2 separate regions of the Homo sapiens genome follow, and region 1 is linked to region 2. Evidence: fine-mapped expression QTL. A gene starts in region 2. The other region holds a variant in brackets. All regions are shown on one strand. Distances are from middle to middle.

Region 1 (5,387 bases), 34 kb before region 2:
GAGACATTACTTCTCCCCTGCCCCTCACCCTATTTACAAGTGCAAAAAAAAGATCAGGTTTCTCAGAAACTCCTGTTTGCATTTAGGTAGTCTAAGATGGAGATACTGCATTATAAAACAAAAGCTCCATTTTTCTTCAGGACAAGAAAATCATAGCTAGCCATATGCCATCTTTGTATTTTTCAATAGAATCTGGATCTTTTTCTTTATGTGTTCCTTTTCTCTTTTTTAAAAAACATTTATACAGCACACTTTATATTTTCTATATTGCAACTACCCAATTGTGGTCTTCAATGCTTTATCTAAAGTTAAAAGCTAAATTATTTACTTTTTGCTAAGAATAGCTTTAATATATACTCTCTCTGAAAAAGTCTAAATCCTTGTTCATTCCTCTCTTCAGTATTCATCACAAACACAGCTCCTTTCAAGCTTCACATTACCCTTTCAGTCCTTTCTCTATAGAGAGTGGTGATGTTTTTGAGGTTTGGTGGAATCAGTCTCTTGTAGTTCATTCTCCGCATTATAAAATGTACTAGAACTCACTTCCCTACTGTAGAAGATTGCAAAAATAGCTGGAACTGTCTATATGCATACCCTCTGAAATGTAACTTTGCCTCCTATCAAGAGGCAAAGTCTCCCCTCCCTTTGACTCTGGACTGGTCATGTTACTTGTTTTGACCAACAGAATATGGTGAAAGTGATGGTATGCCAGTTCCAAGAATAGACTTAAGAGGGTTTTCACACTTCCCTTGCTCTCTTAGAACCCTGCCAGCCACTATATAAAAAAGCCTAAGCTAGCATCTGTGATGATGGGAGCCCACAAGAAATGGAGTAAGTAATCCCAGCTGAGGTCATCCTAGAGCCAGGGCTTACCTGACTCAGCAGCTTATCACACAGGCATCAGTAAGACCAGACAAGACCAAAAGAACTGCCCAGCTGAGTTCAGCCCAAATTTTGACTAACAGAATCCGGAGCCATATGAAATGGTGGTTGTCTTAAAAAACCACCATTTAAGTTTTGGAATAATTTGTTACACAGCAAAAGCTAACTAATATAGTTGCCCATATACATTTTTAACAACCCAAACTCTTCTCTACCCTGCCATTTTTCTTTTTATATGATAGGCAAAATATTTCTCATCAATTAGGCTTTCTTTTTATCCAAACATATATTATAACATCTTTTCTTTCTTTTTTTGAGACAGGGTTTCACTCTGTCACCCAGGCTGGTATGCAGTGGCACAGTCATGGCTCACTGCACCTTGACCTCCTGGGCTTAAGCAGTCTTCCCATCTCAGCCTTCTGAGTAGCTGGGGCAACAGGTGCATGCCATCATGCTCAGCTAATTTTTTCATTTTTTTTAAAGATGAAGTCCTGACATGTTACTCAGGCTGGTCTTAAGCTCCTGGGCTCCAGTGATCCTCTCACCTCAGCCTTCCGAAGTGCTGGGATTACAGGTGTGAGCCACTGCACCTGGCCTATTATAAAGTCTTACAATGCAACACAAAAAGTCTCCCTATTCCCAAAGTATTTGGAAAGGGGATTCTTGGCCAAAATCATATTAAAGAAGGTATTGTATAAAATGTCCCTCAAATCAAATATTTAAAATTCTATTAATTCATACAACTGTCATATAATGTAGAAACAAATATTTTCATATTCCTTTTAGGATTTTAACCTGCTATGTACCAGATATTTTGTAAATTATATCTCTTTTCGTCTTTTCTACTAGAAGATAGGCTTAATGAGGTTAAATATTTTGTTCAAGGTCAAAAAGTGAGTAACAGATATGATACTTAACTTCATGTCTTCTGATTCCAGGCCCATTCTTTTATTATTATTATTAATACAATTTTAAATAAATAGAGATGGGGTCCTACTATGTTGCCCAGGCTAGTCTTGAACTCCTGTGTTCAAGTGATCCTCCCACCTTGGCCTCCCAAAGTGCTAGGATCACAGGCGTGAGCCGCCACACCCAGCCAAACCATACTGGCCATCTTGACTTTGAGAGTGTGTGATTAACTTGCCCTAAATTCCTTATGCCTTAGATATACTAAGTTTTGTATCAACTTGTAGAACACATTCCTTAAGTGTATTTGTTTACTCATTCATTCACGTGGCAGATGCAGCATAAGGGTATGCACTCTCTTGATCATTCAGTCTTGGGGTTTACCTACCTTTTGTTTCTGCTTTTTCTCTTCTCAGAGGACATGACAATGGATTAAGCCAACTTCTCCCACCTGTTTTTACATGCTTTCCTGTCAAACAAATCATCCCTCTCCTCTAAAAATTCTTACTTTTTTCCAGCCCATCATCTAATCTATGACTGAAATACACAGAGGAGGAAAAAGATAAAATGCAAATCAAAACATGAAAATATTCATTAAATGTAAGAAGCCAACTTACTGTCACCTATGAGAGTCATCCTGGCCCTTGGTTATACCAATTGTAAGTTTTCTGAACGAAGTGGGCTTCTTTCTCAATATTTTGACATGATAGGTGTTTAGTAAACGTATGGTGAGGAATAATAATAATGCAAAAAGTAGAAACTATATTTCCCTCTCTGGCTTCATGTTGCATTCAAAGGAATTATCCTTTATGGCAGTTAACTTGAACTTCATGTTTTTTCCTTGTTAAGGGCTATTAACATTAATATTGCACCACAGAGGGGATTTTTGTTTTTCTTCTGATAGCCATCTTTCAACAAGTCTGGCTGCAAGTAAATGAGATCAGCATTTCAAGAGCCAACTATTGTGTGGCTTATTGCCTATACTTGCTAAACTTTTCATTCCCCATAGTTTGCCTCTGTTTCTATCACTGACTTTATCTTGTAATGAAAATTAATGCCCTGATTTAAATGAGTGATATGAAATATGATCTATTATGCCTGCTGGCAAACAGTGTGTTTCACCTCATTACCACATTCTTAAAGAATAATTAGCATCTCTAGGGATGAATTGGATATTACATA[A/T]CCAACATTTGCAGATACCTTTATTCACAGTTAAAACACAGTGCTTCTCTCCTTTCCACACACTAAGCCTCAGTTATAAGTTTTACGAATCTTGAACATTAAAATTATTCTCTGGGGAATACAGATTGTGTTACTGTTAAATCAGCTGCATGCTAGTGGAACCCAGAAACTTTCTACTTGCATACTTGTAAAATTGTCACTATTGTCTTATCTTTGCATTGCTTCCAAAGTTACTTATTCCCTTTAAACACTTTAATTGAAGTTGATAAGTAAAATGGAAAGCTGATACCATTTAACTGAAATATTTACTCTCAAAATTCACAAGTGTTCATGATATATTCAGATAATTGAGATCAATATCATGCCTTTGCTCAATTATTGGAGAGCTCACAAATCACTAAATCAATCTCTCAGTTGGATGCGGACACTGAAATATAAACTTAATGTAAGTTTACTGTACTTTAAATTACCTTTATATATCGACAATCTAGAATGTAAATATTAACTGAAGCATGTTATTCACTAATTTGAATCTGAAATTAACTGCATAAAGTACATTTCACAAAATCTACTCTTATCAAAAAATAAACAAGGTTATTCAGAGCACGAAACACATTAAGCCTTTGTTATCAGCCCCTTGGTTTAATTCCTTTTTTTTTTTTAATGATTTCTCTGAATTCTATTTTTTCCTCAAATCTGCTAGGATTTTAGTTTCCTATTCCCTTAAAACATTTTGAAGCTTGCCTTACTTCTTTAAAGAGAGGGTTTTGTTTTATAATCTGTCTGACAATTATGAAACCTTAAGTTGTGTGGTTCTATTTCGGTGGTTGGTTGTTTCTGCTGGTTCTTATCCTGGGTTCCTAGATTCCTTGTATGCTTGCTTAAATTTGACCGTGATTTGCCCAAGTTATTCATGGAACTATTTGGGAATTCTCGGAGGCTTAGGACTAGCATTTCCTTCTACCACACACACACAAAAGCACCACCTGTTCAGAACAACCTTAAACTAAATTCACACCTAGCTCTGTTTTAACTGCCTAGGTAAGGTGTATTTAAGCAATGAGTCCTTGAGAACACCAGTGATTGGCTAAAACTTCTCAAAGATCTGTTTATTTCATTTGGTTTGATTTTGGGGCCATCTTCTGCTAAGCACTAAAATGACTACTCGTGCAGTTTCCTGAGACGGCCAGAAGAGTTTACTTGTGGTTCACCATTATCCTGAGCTTTAGCCCTTGGGATCTCAGCTTTATTCAGGGAGAATGTCCCCTCTTAAACTCCCTACCATGGGTAGGCCTTGGGCTCAAGTTGGCTGGGTTATGCAACTGGCTAATGTCCTCAGACAGAAGCAGCTTCAGCATTCCCCCAGTCTCTGAGTTCTCATTTTCTTCTGAGATTTTGGCCAGGCAATTCCTTGTTATTTTTCAGCATTCTCATGCTTTTCAGATTATACAGGTATTCATCAAAAACATTTTTGCTGTTTTCAGTGGCAGGGTTGGTCTGACTATCCTGGTTTACCATGTTTCCAGATATAGAACTTTGCTTTGGTTTAATAAGCTTCATTAAAGCGAACATATTCCAGTTGTCTAATGTGTTTGTTTTAATTATATATTTTAATTGCATATCACAAAGATAACTCAAGCTACCTTAAATACCTGGAGGTAGTCATAAGGATATGGGTACACAGAACCCCAGGAGTAGCTGAACAATCCAGACCACAGGAAGAAGAGGAGCTTTTTACAATGGACCACATATTGATAAGAAGATCCAGAACAGCAGGAGACTGGCCTTTGCTCTACCTTAAGAGTTCTCCAACTTAAGCAAAAATAAGGATCACATAGATTAGAACACAGATTGCTGGGCCCCATCCAGTTTCTTAAGTAAAGCCTGATAACTTGCATTTATACTAAGTTCCCAGTTAATGCTGATGCTGCTAGTCCAGGGACCACCTTTTGAGAACCATTGCCCTACTGCATTATTGTTCAAGAATGAAGTCTCAAGTTAAATTACTCAGATTCTGGTCCTAATTACCCATCTACTGGATATATGAACTCAGACATGTTATCATGCCTCCTTATGCCTTGGTTTCCTCATCTTGGTGACCTAATCTGTGAAACAGGGATACTGGTGGTACTTACCTCAAGAGTTTTGCTGAGAATATTAAATGAAATAAAAGATGTGAAATGCTTCAAATAGTACCCAGTACTTAGCAAGCACTTGGCAAGATCAGCTATTACTATTACTACCACTCACCCATCTTAAATAAATCATATTTCAGTATTTACACTTATTTGTATATGTCTAATTTGGCTTCCCACTACTAACTTCCTTTAACTCTCTCTTTCTTCTTTCTCTCTCCTCCGTTTTTCATGCTTTTAAGATATTCTAGTATCACCTCTTTGTAACTTTAGTTTACCATA
Region 2 (5,387 bases):
CACAGTTGGCATCTTGACATTTAATACATTGAAAATCACAACATATGAAGTGTCTAAGACAGTAAACACAGTAAATAATCATTCAATTCTTTATTCAAATATAAATAATATTCATGTTTAACCAATGTAGAAATTACAAATATATGTAATTACATATATGTAATGTATGTATGTGTATGTGTGTGTATATATATATTACATATCCCAGAAGAGTAGTACAGATTGTTTTCATCATGTGAAGAGCATGAAAATCCGAGAGTTCTATATATCTTTAAATTTCTCCCAGTGCCATTGTTTAATAGTTAAAACCTGCCATATTTAATACCTACCAATAATTTGAACTTATATACTTTTGCTAAATGCACAGGAAGGAATTTCAGATTGCCGATATCACACTCTCGTTGTGAAGAGGTTGTGTCAAGTTCTTCTAGTGAAGGGAGAATTTCAAAAGCAGGAAAAGTGTGGGAGAACAGTGGGGGAGGACTGTTAAGAAATCACTGCTTCATTTCTTCAACTGGGCAGCAACTTGTGCTAATGAAACTCAGGTGGACATTAGACTGCCAGCCCCAGGGTTTCCCTTGCAAGGCTACCCTCAGCTATGGCAATGGGGGCTCCTATAAGCCTCACAGAGAGGTGCTACTTTAAAGAGAAACTGAAAAAAGTAAATAGGATCATATTACAGTGGAGCTGCTGAAACCTACGGCTTTAGGGCAAAAATGAAGTTATTTCACTTCAACTACCTTTAAAAAGCACAGACATTCCGAATTACAAGCAATTCTACCGCAGGAGACATGGATGTAATGTTTATACCCATCTGTGAACCTATCTAATGATGCCCTGGTGCAAAGATGAATAGATTCAGTTAAGAAATGATTGGTTTCTCTCTTTTCTTTTCATGTCTTCAGTTCCACTAGTAGTTACTACTTACAGGCTTCCTTGTGTCTCACACAACAGGTTTTTTCCCCTCTTAAATGAGAGTTACCCTCAGAGTGTGCTTTCAATCTGGATGTTAGCCCCTAGAGCTTCGCTGCTATAAATTCGTGTCCAAGTCTGCCTTCGTAATTAAACATGCTTTAGTTCTAAAATCTAAGTGAGTTAAGTGATTTTGATGTCGTTGCCCAAGATTTTTGGTTTTGTTTTTCGTAACTCCACATTTCCAGGTTTGAGGACCACAGTACAAGTTCCCTAAACAAGCCATCTCCACCAGGGCTGAGACTTAAGTAGGTATCAATGAGCAAACCCAGACGCCAGCAAGTAATTCTTTGTTACAACTATTTTCAGCTGCACATTTTTTTAAAATGGTTTTGAAACTTCCTGACAAACAATTTCATTCACAGCATGAGAAATAATGTAATCATGAGACATAGCAAAGACAAAGTATAAATATTTCCCTTACCTGGATCATGGAAAGGCACCAACGCAAAGTTGAAAAGAGGTCTTTTAGGTCTTTTCAAAGACGTCTCCAAAATTTTGGAAGCCCCTTCAATCACCTGAACTAAATCATCATACATAGAACCAGTCACATCAAACACAAAAGCCAACGTGGAGGCCCCCTCGGGAATTTCCTCAGCTCTGATCTCTGACTGGGGGCTCGCATCTTGAGCTAGGGAAGAATAAAGAAGAGCAAACAGGAATACTGTATGGACAACTTCCCAGGAAATCATTTTCTTTTTTTTCCCCCTCTTTTTCCCCCTCAGCGCCTAAGCACTGTGCTCAGTCCTCCTCAACAACAGGCAGAGGGTTTCCTCTCAGAGTAACTCATCAGACTCTTGGAATCTCTGAACTAGCAAAAAGTTTGGCGCTGAGAATCAGACGGGGACAAGCACCAAACTCGAATCCCTCCAGGGGTTGGGCAGGGCAGGGATGCGGCAGCTTTTGTCTGGATGCGGCTTCCTCCTGGACTGCTATCTGCCCGCGGGCCCTGGACAGCCTGTGGCGGAGTGCGGGCGGCGCGTCGGGTCCATGCCCCGGGGGCAGCTCTGAGCCTGCGGCGCCGCGGCCCGAATCCCGCTGCCCTCGCCGCCGCCGCTGCTCTCCGCCTGGGCCAGCGACTGAGGTTCCCAACTTTCCACTGTTTGCAGCTCACGAGCGACGAGGGGAAGCCTGGCTCGGCCTCGCCTCCTGATTGGCCAGTTGCCGTCCTCCCTCCTTTGCTCTGGAGGCCCCCCCGGAGGGTGACTTTTCCCTCCACTGATTGTAGGGTCAATTCAGTCCCAGGGAAGCGCTTACGGTGTCAGCTCGGTTCCCACCGGCACCGTTCCTAACCTGCAAAACGCTAGTGTAAACAATGGCTTTCAAGAATGTGTGGCAAAGACCCAAACCGAGGGACACCACACTAGCACAAAGGGAATTTTGTTTTTCTATTGTGTACAACGCGGCTTTAGACACCTCTTTCCTAATTCCCCCCAAAAGTCAAGACGCCCCAGCCCAGCCTCCTGCCTCTCAGCCCACAACTCGGCCCAGCCAGGAGGGGGAGCTGGAAAATTCTCTCAGCTGCGAGGCAGCCACACTATCGCTCTTTGATCTCCTCTGAGACTCTGGACTGCAGGGAAGGAAGGGAGGACAACGCTGAAGGGGCAAGAAGCCCAGGAAGAGGAAAGGGGCTGCTGAGGGAAATGAGAGACAAGAACTAGGTAGTCACTAACTGTAGAGGGGAATGTGAATACAGGATGGAAGCCCCGTAGAAAGGACAAGGAGGAGGGGCGAGAGAGGTGTGGGGAAAGATGAGACATAAAATTCATATTAAAGAGAAAATTGATTTTTTAATTGTATTATCAAGATTCACATTTGCTGAGCAGTTTGAATCCTACGCTCAGCATAGTAAGGCAGAATAATATCCCCGTTTCAGATTTCCTCCCCTGGAACAGTCATGCCTCAGGTCTCAGCCAAAGATCTATTGGAAAGGTGCTCCCCTCTATGGCATTTTCTTGCCAGTCAAGAAGGAAACCTCACCCTGGAAGACATGCCAACGTTTTTCCGTGTTGTGATTGCTATATACGTTATAGTACTAATAACAGAGATAAGAGGATAAGCAAAGAAAGTCTACCATGAACTAAGGATTCTTTATGTCATTTTAATAAAAACGCATTTCCTTCCTGGAAAAGGAGTTGTTGTCCAGATCCCAGCATTTAAAGAGGGGCAAACAGGCATCTTGATCTCTGTTTGGATGTATATTAGACCGCCCACCCAACGGAGATGCAGCCTGAGGAAGAGTTAGCTCCCACCAACCTTTTGTAATCTACAACTGTCTTCTCTTTCAGTCCCAGCGGCTGTGGAACCCGAGTTTATGATACCTATAAGTCATGTCACTTAAAGGAAGCAGACAGGCCATTTGGGCTGAGTGGGAATATGAGAGGAAAGGGGGAAGGTACTTCCTTCTCAAGCAGTATTTAGAGAATGCTATTTGAGTCTCCCATTCCGTTGTTTATTTAAAAAGGATTTCATTCTAAGTCTTAGAGACCTGAGCTATTCCAGGTGCTCAAGGGAGGCCACAGAGCCTAGTGATTAAGAGTTCTGGGTCAGATACCCTGGGTTGAAAGCCCAGCTGTGACATTTAACTGTGTGACCTTCAAGAAGGTTACCAAACTTTTTCAGACCTGTGTTTACTCAGCTGTAAATGGGAATAATGATAGCACCCACCTAATAAGGATTAAATGATCTATAAATGTTCCATGTGCACTTGAAAAGAATGCTGTTGGGTGGAATGTTCTATAAATGTTAATTAGGTCAAGTTGTTTAATAATGTTCCAATCTTCTATATCCTTACTGATTTCTGCCTATTTGTTCTATCAGTTTTTGAGAGTGGTATTGAAATATCTGACGACAATTGTGGATTTGTGTATTTCTTCTTGCAGTTCTATGAGTTTTAGCTTCATGTATTTGAAGCTCTGTGGTTAGTTACATAAGCACATAGGATTATTATGTCCTTTTGACATAATGGACATGAATTGACGCCTTTATCATTATGAAGTTGCCTTCATTGTCCCTGGTAGTATTATTTGTTCCAAAATATACTTTGTCTGATATTAACACTGCAACTTTCTTTTGATTAGTGTTGCATGGTGTATCATTTTCTATCCTTTCACCTTTAACTTATTTTTTTCTTTATATTTAAAGTATATTTTAGGTAGTCACCCTAAAATTGGGTCTTGCTTTTTCATCCAGGCTAATAATCTCTGCCTTTTCATTTGTGCTCTTAGATGTTTTACACTCAATGTGATTATGGATATGGTTGAGTTTAAATCTGCCACCATGCTATGTGTTTTCTATTTCTTCCATCTATTCTTTGTTCCTTTTTTTTTTTTTTGCCTTCTTTTTGAATATTTTATGATTCCATTTTATTTCCATTGCTAGCTTATTAGCTAAAACTCTTTTAGTGGTTGCTTTACAGTTTATAGTATACATCTTTAATTTACCAGCCTTTCTTCATGTAGTGTTATACCACTTCATGTATAAGAACCTTAGATTAGTATACTTCCATTTCTCCCCTCCTGACTTTTTTACTATTTTTGTCATCCATTTTTATTGCATATTACTATATTTTAAATCCCACATTATATTGATTTTTTTGCATAAGGAGTCAGTTATCTTTTAATGAATCTAAATAAGAAAAATGTAGCATATTTACCCAGGTAGTTACCATTTTTTGTGCTGTTCATTTCTTTGTGTAGATCCAGATTCCCATCTGATATCACTTTCCTTCTCACTAAGAGACTTTCTTTAATAATTTCAGTAATGCAGTTCGACTAGAGACAAATTCTTTCACTTTTGTATGTCTGGAAAAGTTTTTATTTCACTTTTGTTTTTCAAAGAGTTTTTTCTTTTTTTTTTTGCTGAGTAAAGAATTCTAGGTAGACAGGTTTTTTGTTTTTCTTTCAGTACTTTCATTTGTCTTCTTGCTTGTATTGTTTCCAATAAAAAGATAATCTCTATCATCTTTGTACTTACTTGTTCTATATAAACCATGTATGTTTTTAAGAGTTTTTTTATTGTTACTGTTTTTGAGCAGTTTGATTATGATGTGCATTGATGTGGCTGCCCTCATATTTCTTGTACTTCTTCCATCTGTTTTCATCAAATTTGGACATTTGGGGCCATTATTTTTTCTGTCTTCAACCTCCTTTCCTTTAGGGGCCCCAATTAACACATATATGAAGCTACTTAAAGTTCTTCCACAGTTCACTGATGCTCTCTTAATTTTAAAAAAATTATTTTTTTCTTTTGTCACTATGCTTCATTTTTTATAGTTTCCATAACTATTTCTTCAAGTTCGTTAACCTTGACTTCTCCCTATTCAATCTGCCAATTGCCTCATCCAATATATTTTTCATCTCAGGCATTGTAGTTTTCAACTCTTGACGTTTAATTTGGATCTTTTTTATGTCTTC

Which allele goes with the higher level. Alleles are on the strand shown, and positions count from the first base shown. SD is a standard deviation of normalised expression in the study named.
For the expression in sun-exposed skin of the gene that starts at base 2,053 in region 2, T is the low allele of the variant in region 1 and A is the other (small effect, 0.25 SD a copy in GTEx).

The links. PIP is the estimated chance that this variant, and not a neighbour inherited with it, causes the effect. A credible set is the group of variants that fine-mapping cannot tell apart.
Region 1: its variant is the best candidate, but not a certain one, in a credible set for the expression of HMCN1 in sun-exposed skin (GTEx, PIP 0.66).

Annotation. Positions count from the first base shown.
Region 1 is chr1:185,765,257-185,770,643 of GRCh38, reverse strand. The region is part of intron 1 of HMCN1 (hemicentin 1); the gene reads right to left. Among named protein-coding and RNA genes, the nearest start is that of HMCN1, 34 kb to the right of the region's middle. The variant A/T (reference allele first, on the strand shown) is at 2,971.
Region 2 is chr1:185,731,057-185,736,443 of GRCh38, reverse strand. It overlaps HMCN1 (hemicentin 1), which reads right to left and starts at 2,053. Exons shown (of 107, transcript NM_031935.3): 1 at 1,397-2,053. The coding sequence starts at 1,664.